Homo sapiens: one gene and its partner. The protein of the gene in region 1 interacts with the protein of each later gene in a pairwise test. Each region holds a gene or a part of one and is shown in the gene's direction. Other genes may lie near its edges. The genes, in order: CACNG1 and VAPA.

Region 1 (3,820 bases):
CAGAGACAAAGGAGAATGGCACGACCTCAGAGTTCCTAACACCCCAGATCATCATCCTGGCATTGGAATCTTTGCTGACTTAGTCGGAAGCAAAGCTGCAATCCCTGAGCTTTGTGTAAGTGTGATGGAAGCCAGGGCAGCGGGGCAGAGAGGGGCATCCCAGAGGCAGAGGCAGGAAGACTGAGAGTCTGCACAGGACCGTCACGGTCCCTCTCCTCTTGACCCATGACTAAGATGGGTCCACCTCGGATGTCCTTCCTCTTTACGTTGCCCTGGATGCTCAGTTTCCCAAATAATATCCACCTAGACCCAGGAACAGGGCAGGGAGGGAAGGGGCTCATAGTAGGGTCTGTCCATCTGAACAGGACCCTGCACCCTCTTGAGTAACATGGGCAGATGCCTGGCCTGATTTGTCCTAAATGAGGCCTGGGTCTGACGTGCCCCCACCCCTACAGGGGCCATTAGAGACCATGAAAGGGTTTATGGTCTCCAATGGGCAGCCACATAGCCCAGGAGTGGATGTTTCTCTCAGGTTCAGGGCAGGAGACACCGGTCTTTTTCACATGCTAAGCCCAAGAAAGGGGAGAGGTCAGCCCATCAGTCCTCAGGCCCCCAGTTCAGCCATGTAAGAGTGAAGCTGAGGCTTCCTGTTACCCTGAGAAGGAATCCTACCCACTGGAGGCCCCCTCCCTCCATTTGAGGACACTTAATGGAGAAGAGGGAGGAGGAACACTGTACCTGGACCACCAAAAGAAAAGCATCCCCCCAGAAGCTCACAACCTGGCTCCTGCAGACACGTAGCCTACCCCTGTGTCTGAGTTAAGATCATTTCTATCCAAGCAGCCAGCAGCCAGGCGGAGCCTGGCGTTTATCTGGTGGGGATTTGGTGAGCCAAATGCTACCTGTGTGAGAGTCACCTCAGCAACCCACCAGGTGCAAACAGCTGTGCCCCCAGCAAGGCACTCCATGGCCCTCATCTCAGGGCCCTCCGCTGGGAAGGATTTTAACTTATGGCTTTTGAGCAGTCAGGGAGGCAGCTGACCATGAAATACACTTGAATTCAGTCAATTCTGACAACTGAAATTGGCCCTTCAAGAATGAAACAGAAACAGAAATGTTTCTTTGTCCAGAGGGAGACACATGGAGACTTATGACATAGCATGGGCCATTTTGAAGCAGTGATTCGAGAGATCTACAGCCAATAATCTAACAAATAGAAGAGATCTGCATTATGCTTTAAAATAGCACCGGATGCCCAGAGAGAATAGCAGAGCACCAATTCTGACATCACCACCAGCAGTCAGACACCCCAGGTAACGCGGTTCAAAAGGAAAGTGATTTAAATATAGAAGCACACAGAGAAGGCTGTTTATGCCAGGAATGGGTACTGCTGCTAAACCAGATCCCATCTCCAGGGGTCATTTGCTTCCTCAACCTCAGGAGAGGCAGCAGCCCTGGCTCTGGGGGGAAGGAGGGGCATGGTATGAGACCACAGGCTTAAGGTGCAAGAAGAATGATTTAGGTCCGGTTAAAGAAAGTCTTCATCCCAAAGAAAAGCCTTGGTATCACTGCAGGTACATTTCCAGAAAGAACTAGGCATCAACCGCCTTATGAGCATCTAAATGAAGCCTGGAAGTGAAGAAATGAATTGGCAAACTAGACACCATCTCAACTAGAGAAAGAGATGTTTTTCTATTTAAGGGTCACTGATCCACAGGAAAAGAAATCAATGAAGGGCCTCCACAAATAAAAAGCAAACTAATTTAGTTTTGGAAGGAAACATAATATAAAATAACCCATTCATCCACTTCCTAAATCAAGAGCAAAGAAGATAAACCGTATTTAGCAAGAAATAAGACTGTGCTTTTTTTTTTTTTGAGACAGAGTCCCACTCTGTCACCCAGGCTGGAGTGCAGTGACACGACCTCAGCTCACTGCAACCTCTGCCTCCTGGGTTGAAGCAATTCTCCTGCCTCAGCCTTCTAAAGTGCTGGGATTACAGGTGTGAGCCACCACGCCCGGCCTGTGCTTTGATTTTATAGTATACCTAGCTATGAGAGAGAGACTGAAAGAGAAAAATGGAAATGAAATTATATTTTAAATCAGCATGAATTTCCTTGTGCTGAGCCCCTCCCCTCTCCCTCATCAAATTCAGATTTGCGTTCCTACTGCCCACAGACTTTCCATAGCTTTTATGACAATTATCAGGTGGGCCAAGCGGCTTTGTGGGGGCAGGTCTCATCTGGGCTGTCTCGCAAAGACCAGGGACCCAGTGAAACCACATGATGGTCACATTCAGCCCTCGTAGGGGTTCCATCTGCATCCAGGCCATCCCAATGGCCACTCGGAAAAAGCCCTTTGCAGGGCATTTTAAGGGGCCTGGAGCAGGGTTCCCATCCTGGCTGCACATCAGGCTCTCCCAGAAAGCTTTTGAAAAACACTGTTTCCCAGGTCCCACCAATGAACCAGGGTGTGCCTGGATTCTGATGAGAAACACAGTCCCAGGTTTGGGGTTGATCCAGGGTTTCTCAACCTTGACACTCTTGATATTTTGGCCTGGATCATTCCATGTTGGGAGGACCTGTCCTGTGTGTCTTGGGATGTTCAGCAACGTCTGTGGCCTCTACCGGCTGGGTGCCAGGTGTACCCCTCTCACCACCACCATAACCCCAGGCATCGCCAAGTGTCCCCTGGGGGGGCAGAATCGGCCCCAACAGAGACTGCTGTTTGGTTCTTTGTTGATTGTGCACCCTGCACACCCTGAAAAATGGCTTGAGCCTGGGCCTCGGTTACCCTGTCTGCCTAATGGGGTGCAGAACCCACAGGCCGTCTGCCCTGCAGACTCATCCAGCCTCAGCTCCCTGAAGACCTCCCAGCCCTGCAGGCAACCTCATTATCCCACTGAGATGTTGTTCTAAGGGTCAAAGACAGATGTTTCAGCCCAGATTAAGGATCTGGGGAGAAGAGAGGCTGCCAGAGCCCCCTGCATGCCGAGCAGAATGACACCACGCTCTCTGCCAGGCCTCTGTCCTTGCTACGGGTTGCTCCCCTCAACTCACAGTCTGTCTCCTCCTTTGCAGAGAAGAACTGTTCCTACTTCAGGCATTTTAACCCCGGCGAGAGCTCGGAGATCTTCGAATTCACCACTCAGAAGGGTGAGCCTGGGTGGAAAGGGGTCTGGGGTGACAAGAGGGGACTTCTGTGTTGTGCACCACTGGGCCAGAAAGTCATTGGCAAAAGCACTGACTTCCTCACGCCTGATGAGAAGAAGCCTGTGGTGCATTTGAACAACAGCCTTGTCAGCTCCCCGCTCCGGAGGCCCCAGGCAGCCGCCTTCCATCTCCAGGGCCCGGAGCTTCCACACCTCGGGGCCAGGGAGCGTTTGCAGAAGCAGCACCTCCTGGTAGGCCCCTACACAAGGGCAGCTGTTGTGACGGGAGGTGTGGATGTGGAACAAATGCTCAGAAGCCCCGTGGTGGCTCTTGGTGGCATGTGATAGTTAGAGTCTGCAGGGACAGTCTGAGTCCCTCCCTGGCCTAGAAATCCCTCCCTGAGTACCAGGAGGGTGCGGTGGGCTCTGGGAGCTTTTCAGGATCCGCAGAGCTCAGACGCACACCCATTGTCGGGAGTACAGACCCGTGCCTGCCTGCGCCCAGACAGCTGCACACAGGGTGAGTGGGCAGACACACAGACACACACTGACACACACAGACACACACAACACAGATACACACACACGACACACACAAGACACAGACGCACAGAGACACTGACACACACGCATGATGACACACAAAATGACACACAGTGACACAGACAC
Region 2 (3,820 bases), on another chromosome or scaffold:
GTAATACTGAGCAAGCCTGTGGAATTTTCTTTATGAAAAATGATTTTAGCCTTTGCAAATGTTAACCATGTGAAACACATTTTCAGTATAAGTATGCGTTACAGGGTTTGATACTTTCCTGCACTTAGGTTTGTCCTATTCTTCATTTATTCATACTAGGATAGAAAATTTTGGAATCAGAAAATAGATCCAGTGTTTAGCTACATACAATCTAGTACAAGTGAATTTTTATTCTTAAACATAGGTGTGTTGGCTCTTTTTTTAAAAGATGCGCTCTACCTGAAAAGGAAATTGGATTTTAGAACTGGATGTGGTGCAGTGAAGTATTTTAGGCCCAGGTCTGTGTACACATTTTATAGAAGAATGAAGTACTCTGAAGTATTTTGGTTGCCTTTTCATTTCAACTGTGTTTTGAATTTGTCAGATCACACATATATTGTGTTATTGGGCGCTGTGGTATCTTTTATAAAACCTCTTGCTTGTGTGCAAAAGTTCCTAAAAGGAAACACAAGTAATGCCTATCCATTACTAGCATGCTATGCTGCATGCTTTACTGCCATTGCTGTATGCTTTACTGTCTTTGTAAAAATCCCCCTCTCCCCTTTTCTGGTAACTGGAAAAGCATGCTAAAAATAGTCTTATATTTTCACCCCATAAATGCAGAATCAGTAATTCCTTGGCTTAAAGCTCTTATATAATCAATATTATTGGTGGTAAATACCAAGTTTGGTATCTCATAGCTATCTTTTTTTAAAGAAATTAAGTTCTTGAAAATTTAGCCAAATCCCGTTTTATGGGAATGCTCTTTAGAATTCATTTTGTTCAGCCCCTTTGTTCTATGGTTGAGAAATCTGAGGCCTTACGAAGGTTAAGAGAACTTTCCCCGTGTCTCACAGGTAGGTAGAGGCAGAGCTGGAACTAGATATCTGGTCTGTTGACTCTAGCTCAGTGTCTTCTGGTAACTGTTGAAAATTGTCTTAGTTTGAGAGATGGCTGAAATAATGAACATAAAATGCTATTTATAATAACAAGTATATGTGAAATTTCTTATTGTAAGACTACTACCGGCTTACTGTTGAATAGTTTGGTTATAGTGTTTAGGCTAGAAATGCCTCCCACATTGGTAATAAACATTACAAAATACAATGTATTTTTAGGTAGGCATTTTATAAAATGCATTATGCCATGGTTGCTTTTGAGATAGATTGTAGTCTGGGTAGCATCTTTAAAATGTATGTGGGCTTAACTGTTGTTCATATCAGGAGATGCTCTGATTGTATAGGTGAGACTCTGTTTCTGTTATTTTTAATTGCTGTATGAAATGTGATCAGATTATTTTACTACCAACAGTTATAGTTTGAAAGTCCAACTGTATTAATTGACTGATAATATGATAATATAGAGATTAAATTGTTTGTCTTCATTCCTTATATGTTTAGAAGTTTTTGCTTTGTCTGCCTGCTTACTTGTATATGTAAGCATGAGGGAAATACACTGTTGCTAATACTGAAATTACAATCAAGTAACTAAGGCCTTGAGTTCATATGTGACACTGAATGCACTAGCTTCCTTCGTTCTATAACTAATGTACCTTAACTTCCCCCATTCTTATATTTACAAGAAGCTAAGTCATTATGTTCTGAGTGTGTGGTATGTTCCCTTAAAAAAAAATGACACTTGGAAGAAAAATGTATGAAATTCAGAAATTCCGATCAAAGAAAAGTAATTCTTTCTTTTTTTTTTTGAGACAGAGTCTTGCTTTGTTGCCCAGGCTGGAGGGCAGTGGTGTGATCTCACCTCACTGCAGCTTCCGCCTCCTGGGTTCAAGTGATTCTCATGGCTCAGCCGCCTGAGTAGCTGGGATTACAGGTGTGAGCCAACAAGCCCGGCTAATTTTTGTATTTTTAGTAGAGACAAGGTTTCACCATGTTGGTCAGGCTGGGCTCAAACTCCTGAATCCGCCTGCCTCGGCCTCCCAAAGTGCTGGGATTACAGGTGTGAGCTGCCGCACCCAGCCAAGAAAAATAATACTCTTAAATACTTAGATGTTCACCTAAAGTTGATATTATTTGGTATGGGAATTACTTTTGAACTGTAATCTTTCAGATTACACCACTTTGAAAACAAGTTTTAACAGTAGGGTAAAAATATAGTTTTTGAGGGTATTCCCAACTTGTGATCTTCTACCACTTTAGAGACATTCAAGTAATAGTTTTCTTAGAGCTTTGCACATTCCTATTCACTGAGATTTTAAAAATTTCACCTTTATTCGAGGGAAGGATCAATGCTTATTACCATTTGGAAAAACGAAGATCAGAAGGTAAATGATCTTTATTTTCTAGCTTTAAAGGGAAATTAAACCATTCATGAATAAACTTTAAAAATGTGAAGTGTCCTTTTCCTTTTCACAATACAAAAAAAATTTCAACAGATTGTGTGGTTTGTGCATTTATATCCTGTTAAGCATTAATAGCTAATCACTGGGACTTGAATTCTGATGGCAGATAGTCTCTTGCTTAGTGAGATGGAGTTAACTATTTTTTAGTAGGAAGTGAGAACAGCTGATTTTCATGCCACGTTTCATAGCCCCACTTTTGGTAGACTACCACCACGCTTCTTCGCGTAAGCAGTGGCATCTTGGGAATGAATGCCCAGCCGCTCGTGGGTTGGTGCAAAGAAGTATAAACATATATCACTAAGGAAAAAGAAAGTTTGTCTTGCCCTTCTGACACAGTGTGTGCACTTCAGGCAATTTTTGGAAAATATAAAAAATTCCAAATTCTGCCTTTCAGCAGCATCAATTGCTAGGAACATTTCATTCATTTCCCTGTAATATTAATGTTCTTTAAGCATAATCACTAATTATAAGTTGTATCCTATTTTTTTCCAGCTTAATTTCTGTGGTTTATTGAAAACCAAGTATAAATGTGACTAAAAGCATTTTGCTTTGTTTTTATAGTTAACTTTCTTAAGGTTATGGACATTTTATAATGTAACATTTGATTGGCCTGGCCTCTTGACAATTCCCTTCTAGTTATGCATATCCTCCTGTTGCCACATTTCTTGTTTTAAAACTCAGTTTCTTGTTTTCCAGTTGTTGCTATGTATAACACCCATCTTGAAAGAGAGTATATAGGAAGTTATTCAGATAACTTTTGTAGTAGTGATATTCAACTATAGCAGTACCTTAACTCATGATGAGCTTAGGAACATAAAAGATAATTGTTGCTTGAATAGCACCCCCAGAGATACTGACCTAATTGGTCTGGGGTGGAGATCTGGCATGGTAGTTTTTTTCAAGCTCCAATCATCGGCCAGACAGTTGCTTTATGTAGGTTTTTAAATGCCAAAGGCAGATATGAAGTAGATTTAATTAAGACTTGACTTCAGCAATACAGGGGAACTTAAAATACTTATTTTTCTTTAAACTGCAGGAGTCACTGTTAGGTATTGCTTAAAAAAAATTGCATAAAAGCTTTGCTTGTCAAGTTAGGATTGCTGGAATACCACTAAAGATTTTTGACTTGTGAATAAATGAGCTGTCATCGCAAAAAGGCGATTTGAGAAATGTGGGCTTCAGTATTAATTGCCATTTTGCTGACACCCAGTGTACCTACCTACCTGAGAAATTTATTTTGTCCATCATGTATTTCTCAAAGCAAAAGGTGGTTTTCAAGTATAATGTCGTTTTCAACATGCTTATTACTTAGTTTTACGTCAGCTCATTTCATCATCATTGATAACTTGTGAAATACTTATCTCCATCCTATGGAATAGGGGAGACGGGTTTAGACAGGTTCAATTAGCTCAAGTCTACACA

What was found.
Region 2: the proteins of CACNG1 (region 1) and VAPA interact in binary tests that used the Homo sapiens proteins (3 or more experiments, as listed by UniProt).

Annotation. Positions count from the first base shown.
Region 1 is NC_000017.11:67,050,916-67,054,735, forward strand, and holds part of CACNG1 (voltage-dependent calcium channel gamma-1 subunit), read left to right. Parts: intron 1-3,080; coding exon 3,081-3,155; intron 3,156-3,820. UniProt on the Homo sapiens protein: Regulatory subunit of the voltage-gated calcium channel that gives rise to L-type calcium currents in skeletal muscle. Regulates channel inactivation kinetics.
Region 2 is NC_000018.10:9,955,306-9,959,125, forward strand, and holds part of VAPA (vesicle-associated membrane protein-associated protein A), read left to right. Parts: 3' UTR 1-3,820. UniProt on the Homo sapiens protein: Endoplasmic reticulum (ER)-anchored protein that mediates the formation of contact sites between the ER and endosomes via interaction with FFAT motif-containing proteins such as STARD3 or WDR44.